Regions from separate parts of the Homo sapiens genome. Here region 2 is linked to region 1. The links come from fine-mapping of genetic effects on gene expression. A gene starts in region 1. The other region holds a variant in brackets. All regions are shown on one strand. Distances are between the middles of the regions. Region 1 holds the start of FAM124B (family with sequence similarity 124 member B). Region 2 overlaps FAM124B (family with sequence similarity 124 member B).

Region 1 (5,382 bases):
TGAAAGAAATGACAACCTCATCAGGAAAAAAGTGTATTTTCAGCATTAGATGGAAGATAATATCAAGAAACAAAATCTTTTCCTATGTAAGAGCTTTAATACTTACCTTGTGCAAAATGTTGTGAGTTAATATCGTGGTTTCAGGGGAACAATTTTTCTCCTCAAATCTTTAGAGTTATTTCCAGAATTTCAAAGCCTATTTCAAAAACTATAGTTTTGTCTAAAGTACAATCAGCTCTGTGAATGGAAGGGTTGCGGAAGGGAGAGTGTTCACACTGAGAGATGAGATAGTTATCTGCTTCCAATGCCAATGCATAACATGAATGCTGTCGAGTTTTTTTTAAAAAAGCTTGAGATTTGTAATGCCAAAAAAAAAAACCTCTAATGATTTTTTTAAAAGTTGAAACAAGATGAATTTAATTACTGAGCTGCTCACAATAACTAGGAAACAATTCCTCTGTTATAAATTGTATTTATGTATTTTTCCCATGCAAAAAGTACAGGAATTATGAAACACAAATGATTAGAATTGTACGTTAGATTTACATAGTGAATCTGAATAGAAATAACTCCTTTTCTTGGATAATAATATTTTACTTTAAATTAGGTTGTTATACTATTAAAGGAATCCAGATATATAAAGTTGTTATATTTTTCATCACAAAAGTATTTTTTAATGTAAAAAATTGTCACACTGTGTTTCATTATAAGGATTCATAAATTTGCCTCTTTTATTTTAATTTTTTACAGCTCTTTTTGAAGTACATTTTTTTTCTTTGAGACAGGGTCTTGCTCTGTTGTCCAGGCTGGAGTGCAGTGGCATGAATTTAGGTCAGCACAGCCTGGAACTCCTGGGCTCAAGCGATTGTCCTGCTTTGGCCTCCCAAAGTGTTGAAATTACAGTTGTGAGCCACTTCGCCTGGTCCAATTGCCTCTTTTAAAAAGAATTGTGTTTAGAAAAAGTGCTTGTTCATACCTGTTGAGGAGCACAGCTATCAGGAGAGCAAATGATTTTTTAAAAATATTTATTTATTTATTTATTTTTATTATTTTTTATTTTCTGAGACGGAGTCTTGCTCTATCACCCAGGCTGGAGTGCAGTAGTGCGATCTGCAACCTCCACTTGCTGGATTCAAGTGATTCTTGTGCCTCAGCCTCCTGAGTAGCTGGGATTACAGGCATGCTCCACTTTGCCCGGCTAATTTTTGTGTTTTTAGTACAGACGGGGTTTTGCCATGTTGCCTAGGCTGGTCTCGAACTCCTGACCTCAGGTGATCCACCCGCCTCGGCCTCCCAAAGTACTAGGATCAAGGCGTGACGACTATGCGTGGCCACAAATAATTTTTAAATCAATATTTAGAACACATTTAGGGTGAGTGTTTAGAGCTTGACAACTTTCTCATTGAAGATTATTCCGTTTAAGATTCAACAGCTCAAGAGTCTGCAAATCTAGATCCTTAACCAGAACTTGCTTTTATATCTTTTCCTTACAAGAAGAATACCCAGGCTGGGACTTCAAGGCCCCAGAGAGGCAGTGCAGCAAGTTCCTGGGTTCAAATCATCCTTCAGCTACTTCTTAGCTGTGAGACCTTGGGCAAGTTACCTAGCCTTTCTATGCCCCAGTTTCTTCATCTGTAATTTGGGGCTAGTAATCTCTTCTTCATAGGTTTGTTGCAAGATTAAATTAATTTACATTAAGGGCCAGGTGTGGTGACTCATGCCTGTAATCCCAGCACTTTGGGAGGCCAATGCGGGCAGATCACCTGAGGTCAGGAGTTCGAGACCAGTCTGGCCAACATGGCAAAACCCAGTCTCTACTAAAAATACAAAAAAATTAGCTGGGCGTGTTGGCGCACTTATAATCCCAGGTACTGGGGAGGCTGAGGCAGGGGAATCTCTTGAACCTGGGAGGTGGAAGTTGCAGTGAGCCAAGATCACGCCACTGCACTCCAGCCTGGGCGACAGAGCAAGACTCCATCTCCAAAACAAAACAAAACTAATTACTTTAAGAATTAGAACAGTTTATGACTGGTACATAGTAGATCCTCATTAGACACTAAAAATTATAATTACAATTGTTAATTATAATTATTTATTATTATAATTATATGAGCAATTATAGGAAAGCTCTCACTCTTTCTAAAGAATTTGCGTGAATAAAGGAAGACTAATTTTCTCAATGTCTTTTTAGTACACTCAGAATTTTCGGTACAGCAAATAATTTTCAGTGAAGTCAAAATTATTTAGATAAAGTCTTCTCTTCGTGCCCTAGCAGAAAATGTTCAGAAACAAAATGAAATAAAGAGACAAAGGAAAAAAAAAACTGGCAAAGGGTCAGGTTTTGAGAATTGTTTTCAAGAAGTCATTGTATTCAGATTGGTGGAGCAGGCTACTGTAAACCGTAAGTAGGAAATGAGAACCCGTTGTAAGTTGATAAAATGGATGTCTTTTCAACTAAACAGATTGCTATCAGCCTAACAGAGCCAACTCATGTTCCTTTTCGGCCGGTCATTTCCTGTACTAAGTGTCTATAAGAGCCGCCCATTTGGGTGTTTCTCAGGATTATAGGTTTTTAGGTCACGCAGAAACCCTGGGGAACGCCTGAAAAGGCTAAACACAAGCAGTTACATTATGCACAAGCTGGATGACGTGACCCCGCTGCTGCTGTGTGGAGAGGGAGGCTGCTGAACCCGAGCTGGTGTGAGCTTCTCTTGCCGTAAGTCCACGGGTGGCCAGGAGCACGTGTTAGTCTGGTTAAGAGCTCTGCTCAGAAGTAGCCGCTGCAGCTGAAGGTTTTCAGGCGGGCTGAAGGCTGGGCCGCTTCTTCATTCATTTCAGAAACTTGAACAGTGGGCCTTCTACACACGCTGTCTTTGTCAGCCTCAGGCAGTTCCTCCATGGATGAGACACAGGGGCCTCTGGCCATGACTGTCCATCTTCTTGCCAACTCTGGGCACGGCTCCCTTCTGCAGAGGACTCTGGACCAGCTCCTGGATTGCATTTGCCCAGAGGTCCGGCTCTTTCAGGTGTCTGAACGGGCCAGTCCTGTGAAATACTGTGAAAAGTCCCATTCCAAGCGGTCCCGGTTTCCAGGGATGTCCGTGTTGCTCTTCCTGCACGAAAGCCCGGGAGAGGATAGGCTATTTCGCGTCCTGGACTCTCTCCAGCATTCGCCATGGCAGTGCTACCCCACCCAGGACACTCGGGGAAGGCTGTGTCCCTACTTTTTTGCCAATCAGGAGTTCTACAGCCTGGACAGTCAGCTGCCCATCTGGGGGGTGAGGCAGGTGCACTGTGGCTCCGAGATCCTGAGGGTGACGCTGTACTGCAGTTTTGATAACTATGAAGACGCCATCAGACTCTACGAGATGATCCTGCAGAGAGAAGCGACCTTGCAAAAGAGCAATTTTTGTTTCTTCGTGCTCTATGCCTCCAAGAGCTTTGCTCTGCAGCTCTCCCTGAAGCAGCTGCCCCCGGGAATGTCAGTGGACCCCAAAGAGTCTTCGGTGCTGCAGTTTAAGGTTCAAGAGATCGGCCAGTTAGTGCCTCTGCTACCCAATCCATGCATGCCTATCAGCAGCACCAGGTGGCAGACTCAGGACTACGATGGCAACAAGATTCTGCTTCAGGTATTTCTGTTTTGTCTCAGATCTTGTAGAGGCTCATGGAGCTGTGTAATTTTACATCGGAATGGGCCTAAGCTAGTGGTTCTCAGACTTGGTTGCATATTAGCGTCCCTTAGGGTCTTTCATAAATTCCCACCCCAGGGCAGTTTGATCCGAATCTCTGGGAACATCCAGGCCTAGGTAACTTTTTTACAGCTTCTTGGATGACTGTAATCTGTAACAGGGTTGAGAATCACTGATCTCATAAAATCTCATCTGACAGATAAGAAAGTTCAGATTCCATGAATTTGCAGCTGACACAAGTACTTTATAGTAGAATCAGACAGGATTCTACTATAAAGATCAGAATCCTATTAAAGAATCGGCCTCCTTTCTCAGGCTTGCCGTTTAAATGCCCATCAACTATACCCCTATCCTTTGTTTACTCTTTGGGCTCAGGAATGTCACAAGCTCTTCTAATCTGACTTAAGGAAGTTGAAGTCATACTTATGTTTAGATATGGTTTTTTTAATTTTTAATTTTTTTATTTTTTAGAGATGGGAGTCTTCCTCTGTTGCCCAGACTCGAGTGCGGTGGTGCCATCATAGCTCCCTGAGGTCTTCACCTTCTGGGTTCAAGTGATCCTCCTGCCTTAGCCTCCTGATTAGCTGGGACTACAGGCACGTGCCGCCATGTCTGGCTATTTTATTTTATTTCTAGAGACGGGGTCTCACTATGTTGGCCGAGCTTGTTTAGGGATGTTAAGTTTGCAGTACTATTGACTTAATTTTTATTCTTTATTATTATACTTTAAGTTCTGGGGTACATGTGCACAAAGTGCAGGTTTGTTACACAGGTATACATGTGCCATATTGGTTTGTTGCACCCATCAACTCGTATTGACTTAATTTTTAAGCATCTTGCATCACTGTCAAATTTTACCACATACCAAGTTAGATAGAATGCTTTCTTAAAAAAACTTGAAATTAAAGCCTTCCTTTGTAACCATCCTCGAAAACCTAACATAGCATGTGTGTATTTAGTCATGATAGCTGCCGTGCATTGCCTTTCCATGGTATGTGAGCCTGGGCACTTAGTAGCTGTATGACTGTGGGCCTCAGTTTCTTCATTAGCACAATAAAGGCACCCGAGAATTAGCATCTTCCTCTCTCATACTTACTTACAGGAAATGACCTGACACTTATAAAGTACATAATTAAGATAGTGCCAAGAACTCAATTTTAGCTATTATTGTTCATATTATGCCCTATACTAAGGATTCTCTTAAATTGATAATTTTATTTAATACTTATAACAACCTATGAAGTTACTATTTTTCCCATTTTGGAGATAAGAAAACTGAGCTTTCCAGGGGGTCAGTTATTTGCCCAAGATAGGAAGTATCTATCTACCCTCAAAGTTCATGTGGTCAGCCGCTGCAGTCCAGTGTATGTGTGTAAATGTGCAAGCAGGGGGATGAATGTCATGTTCACAGCAAAATATCCTGTGGCTTCTGTCCTTAAGAAATGGTCAGAAGCTCCTTAAGGCCTATTGAATAAAGTAATAAGAGACTACAAGATGAGATGTCTTTCCATTTGGTTAATTTTGTTGTCATCACTTTGACTTGTTAATAAAACATGAATCATATTCCATATTAAATGATTTCTAAATTATTCACCTTCTTGCTCACATAAGGTAGACAGGCACTGTTTCTGTTAGTTGCCTATTATAAAACCCCATAATTTCCAAGGCATCTAAAATTTCTTTCAGTTTTAGC
Region 2 (5,382 bases), 23 kb after region 1:
CTTGTTTTTTTGTGTGTTTGTTTTTGCAGCTTGGTAATATGCACCTCACCATTTCTATCAGAAAATTGAGATGTACTCTGCGTCATCTATACAAACAAATATGCTCTGTGTGAGTGTGTGTGTGTGTGTATGAGAGAGAGAATTTACTGATTTCTAGACCTGTTTTCTCACTGTCCTCATTTCTGCCTTCTTGCCTTGTAAGATAAATATGTATCATTATTTTTTCTCCCTTGAAATAGACCTTATTTTTTACAGCAGTGGTAGGTTCACAGCAGAATTAAGCAGAAAGAACAGAGAGTTCCCATATACAACCTTCCCCCCGAAAAGAGCCTCCTTTCCTGTCAACATCCTTTATCAGAGTGGTACATGTGTTACAACTGATCAACCTACAACGACACATCACCATCACCCAAAGCCCATAGGGTACATTAGGGTTCATTCTTGGTGTCGTACATTCTGTGGGTTTGGACAAATGTATAAGGATGTGCATCCACCATTACAGTATCATGCAGAGTAGTTTTCACTGCCCTAAAGTCCTCCTGCTCCACTTAGTCATCCCTCCCTCCCCCCAACCCCTGGCAACCACTGATTTTTTTACTGTCTTCATAGTTTTGGTTTTTCCAAAGTGTCATATAGTTGGCATCATATAGTCTCTCTCTGTCACCCAGGCTGGAGTGCAGTGGTGCAGTCATAACTCAATTTAACCTCGAACTCCTGGGCTCGAGGGATCCTCCCTCTTCTGCCTTCTGAATAGCTGGGACTATATGTATGGACCACACGTCTGGCTGATGTTTTTATTTTTTGTAAAGATGGGGTCTTGCTAGTTGCCCAAGCTGGTCTTGAACTCCTGGCCTCAAGTAGTCCTCCCACCTCAGCTTCCCAAAGGGCTAGGATTACAGGCATGAGCCCAGATAGGCTTCTTTCAGTTAGTAGTATTTATTGCAAGTTCTTCCGTATCATTCTTCTTGATATTTGATTAAGGGCTGGGCCAGGTAGGGATGGATCCTGGATACAAATTTCCAAGGGCTGTTATCAAAATGGAAAAAATTGCCTTTTTCCAGAAATCTTCTTGGGAAGAGTGTTGTGCATGGAATAGGATGCAAGGCTCCCAAGGGTGGAAGTCTTAAAGGGGGGTCAGTGAACTCCATCCTGTGGAGGGAGAGTGCAGTCAACTGCAGGGTGAGGGTTTTGCTGAGTGGTGTCTGTAAGTTTGTAACCAGAGTGGAATTGCTAAGGATGAAAACACCTAAACTTCCATATAAGCCATGCCCCCTTTTTGTTTTCTCATGCAATACCAGGCCTCTAATCTAAATAAATGGTGCCCCAAGAATTTAAAGAATATTGCTGCCAAATTATTAGCCGTCTGGAGTGGTCACATGTCTTAGAATGGCCCAAGATATGTATTTTTATTAGCATGATCTAAAAGAAGGATCACCAGCTTTGGAAGATTGAATTCTTACTTCAATCCTTATCTTAACTTTAACCACATGGTTTGGTGGCTTTCTAAATTTCTTTTTTTACATGGTTGCTAATAAATATATCATTTACAACATCCAGTGAGGTCACTGAATGACATCTGTGAATGTCTGCATTGTTTGAACAACTTGCTCTACCAGAAGTGTGGTGTTGTCAATTGGCCATTTGATTCCCAAAGTCTTACCCTTGTCAAAAACTTAATTTAGGGAGTCCCAAAGAGAGGTATTTGGGGCTGGGTCTGATTAGATATCTCATAATTATATTGTACTTATCACTTCTATTCAATTCAACCAAATTTACTGAAAGTCTGCTATGGGCATGGCATGGCAGAGGGTGAATAAGGCATAGTCAGCTCTTGGCACTTAGTTAATGGAAATTATGTTTCATATGTTCCTCCTTTCCTTTCCTGTAGGTTCAGCTGAATCCAGAACTTGGTGTTAAGAATGGCATCTTGGGAGCTGGCATGCTTCCCCTGGGCTCCAGGCTGACTTCTGTCTCTGCAAAGAGGACCTCAGAACCCAGGAGCCAGAGGAACCAGGGCAAGAGGTCCCAGGGGCATTCTCTGGAGCTTCCTGAGCCCAGTGGGAGCCCCACATCAGACAGGTGTGCTGGCACTTCGTGGAAAAGCCCTGGCCGGTCATTCCAGGTCAGCAGCCCAGCTATGGGTGCCCACCTGCACCTGTCTTCTCATCACCTTGAATCCGGGGCCAGAATGAAGGTCCTCAACCGGGAAAACAGCTTTCAGAAGCTTGAGGCCGAGACGAATGTTGACACCGGCTTGACCATCATAAATTCTGAACCCAGGCAGACTTATTTTGGCGGATTTCCAAGGGATTTACAGACCAGCCAGCCACCATTCTGCTTGCCAGCCTCTTCCTTGGGGGTGGCTACCTCCAAAAACAACAGTGTCCTTAAGGAAAGAGTCTCTCCTTTGCCACTTGCTGGCCAAAGGGACCTTGGTACCAGGAAGACAATTTCAGAATGTCTCCTTCATCTGCAAGTTCAGGGTGAAGAAAAAGAAGAAGATGAAGAAGAATTCTTTATATAGCATAAAATAAATGTGGTTTTCTAAAACACAAGATCAGATAAAATGTTCTAGAAATGGAGTACTGACCCAGAATCAGCCTGTTAGTTGTTCATCTGAGGGGGGCTGAATGCTCCCCATGCACAATCTGTATTGATTTTATTTCAAATGTTCAAAGTCTAAAGGTGCTGGGAATGATTGTTTATTTGCCGTCACAGTCATAAGAGAACACAGCCAACACACAGGGAAAAAAACCGAATGCTTTTGTTCCGTGGAGATGCACTAACCCAGCTGGATGTGTTGAATCCAGCACCTATCAGGATAATTGCATTGTATGCAAATGAATCGGTATGTTATACAACACTAATTAGTGTCTGTAATTTGGTTTTAATTTTTACTTAGGTTGCATAGCTCATCCCCCTGGACAATATGGACTGCTATTTACTCTTGAATGCTTTTTAATTTTCATGTGACCTCTTTTGGTAACTAGGCCTTGTTCACATACCCTCCTTGTGATTTTGTCTTTAAAG[T/C]TGTTTGTATCTGGAATGAGTGAAAATGCAAAGTGTTTTGAAAATTATAAACAGTTAATTTTGTTTTCCTGTTTAATGAGCCAAAATACTGGAAGCCAGAAAATCAGGTTGAACATGAATGCTAGGCTCTAGGGCTTTCCTGCTCATCTGCTTCTCATTTGTTTCTGCACTATGTCAAAGAGGACAGTGGTTCTTGTTACAAACCAAAGAGGAACATTGAGCACAGTGGGAAAATTGGACTGGTTGATCTGGTCACTGGAGCAGGACTTGGGTTCTTCTGGCCAGATTTTGACTCCCAGATTCCTTTACAAAACGCACTCATTCATTCATTTATATATGTTCATTCAATAAACATTTTTTGAATACCTACATTTGAATAAGACATTGTGTATATGGTACATATACATTCTGGGGCCATGAAACCCAAAAAGTGTTTATGGTTTCACCACTCTGATAAATTCATTCTACCAACTTTTAAAAAGATACTGAATTCCAAATATATTCCTCCAAAAACTTTTTCCACAGTTGAGGCCCACACTGGCCACATAATGGTGTAATAAGCATTTGCAACCTGCAGATGGAGACTGGGCATATTATGAATTGCAATTATAATTGCAATGGACAAATTCTCGTTGCCCATATGCTGAATTTTTTGGATATGTCTGTACACACATGTTTAAAAATCCCGAGGCCTGTGTTTCAGTTCATTTATAAGGTTATTCAATTCCACGAACTTCACTCTCAGAACAGATGTTACATAAGAGTGTAAATGTTGATTTAGCTGGATCTTTTGGAGACTTGGAGACTTACTACACCTAACTGGAGACAGAGATGAGTTCAGTCCTAAAGTCAAATCTTGCAAAAGTGAGTCTAGGCTGATTTTGGGTGCTCTTCTCCGCAAAAGGGATAGAAACGGAGGAGAGTTGTAAATGGACAAAGACAAGACTCCTCAATTGATATTTTTTGTCCTTAAAACATCAACATATTCTCATTCCCATTTTGTCTCTCTCTCCCCTAGACTACAATTTGATTTTAGAAAACGGGATGAAGAGCTTAACTTTGGTATAGCTTTCTATAATAAGAGTTAAAACAAAAAAGGAAGTTGAACTACTGAACTTTGAATAAGCACAGCAGGAAGAAGTTTTGAAATTTCCTTCCCACTTTTTTTTTGATGTTATCTAAATTTTCTTAATATAATACATGGGTAAGAATAAAAGTACCTGAAAATTATAAAGAATATTGAGAAATGTGAATCAGGCACCTTACAAAATTGACTTGTAAAATAATATACCCTTAAAATGTCATCTATTCTATCCTACTTGTATTATTCAGGGTTCCCTAGAGGAACAGAACTAATAGGATAGATAGATGTATATATGAAAGGGAGTTTATTAAGGAGTATTGACTCACACAATCACAAGGTGAAGTCCCACAATAGGCTGTCTGCAAGCTGAAGAGCAAGGAAGCCAGTCCAAGTCCCAAAACCTCAAAAGTAAGGAAGCTGATAGAGCAGCCTTCGGTCTATGGCCGAAGGCCCTAGAACCCCTGGCAAATCACTGGTGTAAGTCCAAGAGTCCAAAGCTGAAGAACTTGGAGTCTGATGTTCAAGGGCAGGAAGCATCCAGCACAGGAGAATGATGAAGACCAGAAGACTCAGCCAGTCTAGTCCTTCCACATTCTTCTGCCTGCTCTATTTTAGCCACGCTGGCAGCTGATTAGATGGTGCCCACCCAGACTGGGGGTGGGTCAGCCTCTCCCAGTCCACTGACTCAAATGTTAATTTCCTTTGGCAACAGCTTCACAGACACACCCAGGAACAATACTTTGCATCCTTCAATCCAATCAAGTTGACCCTCAATATTAACCATCACACTACTCAACACAGGAATTCAATTTACAACATGATGGGATGGAAATACCAGTGAACTGGGTGGGGAGGCCCAGATTTTGGTTTCACTTTTAAATTTACTATTGATGTGACCTTGAGCATGTCAGGCTCCTTTGTCCTCTGTTGCTTTATCAACTGTAACAAAAGATTGTTAGGGGAATCAAGATGTTGTATATGAAAGCATCTGGATTTCATGAAGCATTATAAATGTGTGAGTTTTTTATGATTATTGTATTATATTGTATATTATATAATATAGTGTATTATTAATACCATTGGTCCTTCGGACCCACAGTTTAAAAATATCATGAGAACAAAGGACTTCTTTTGAAACAAGTTTTAGTGAAATCAATGAGGCAACAAAAAATAAATCCACCTTTCTAAGATTTGTACTACATGTGCCATTTACTTTATGTTTCTATAGCTAAGAGGAAAATTATTTATAACAAATAATCAAATGCATC

The links. PIP is the estimated chance that this variant, and not a neighbour inherited with it, causes the effect. A credible set is the group of variants that fine-mapping cannot tell apart.
Region 2: its variant is the best candidate, but not a certain one, in a credible set for the expression of FAM124B in whole blood (TOPMed, PIP 0.65).

What each region holds. Positions count from the first base shown.
Region 1 is chr2:224,399,284-224,404,665 of GRCh38, reverse strand. It overlaps FAM124B (family with sequence similarity 124 member B), which reads left to right and starts at 2,559. Exons shown (of 2, transcript NM_001122779.2): 1 at 2,559-3,629. The coding sequence starts at 2,898.
Region 2 is chr2:224,376,715-224,382,096 of GRCh38, reverse strand. It overlaps FAM124B (family with sequence similarity 124 member B), which reads left to right. Exons shown (of 2, transcript NM_001122779.2): 2 at 1,889-3,399. The coding sequence ends at 2,524. Among named protein-coding and RNA genes, the nearest start is that of FAM124B, 23 kb to the left of the region's middle. The variant T/C (reference allele first, on the strand shown) is at 3,031.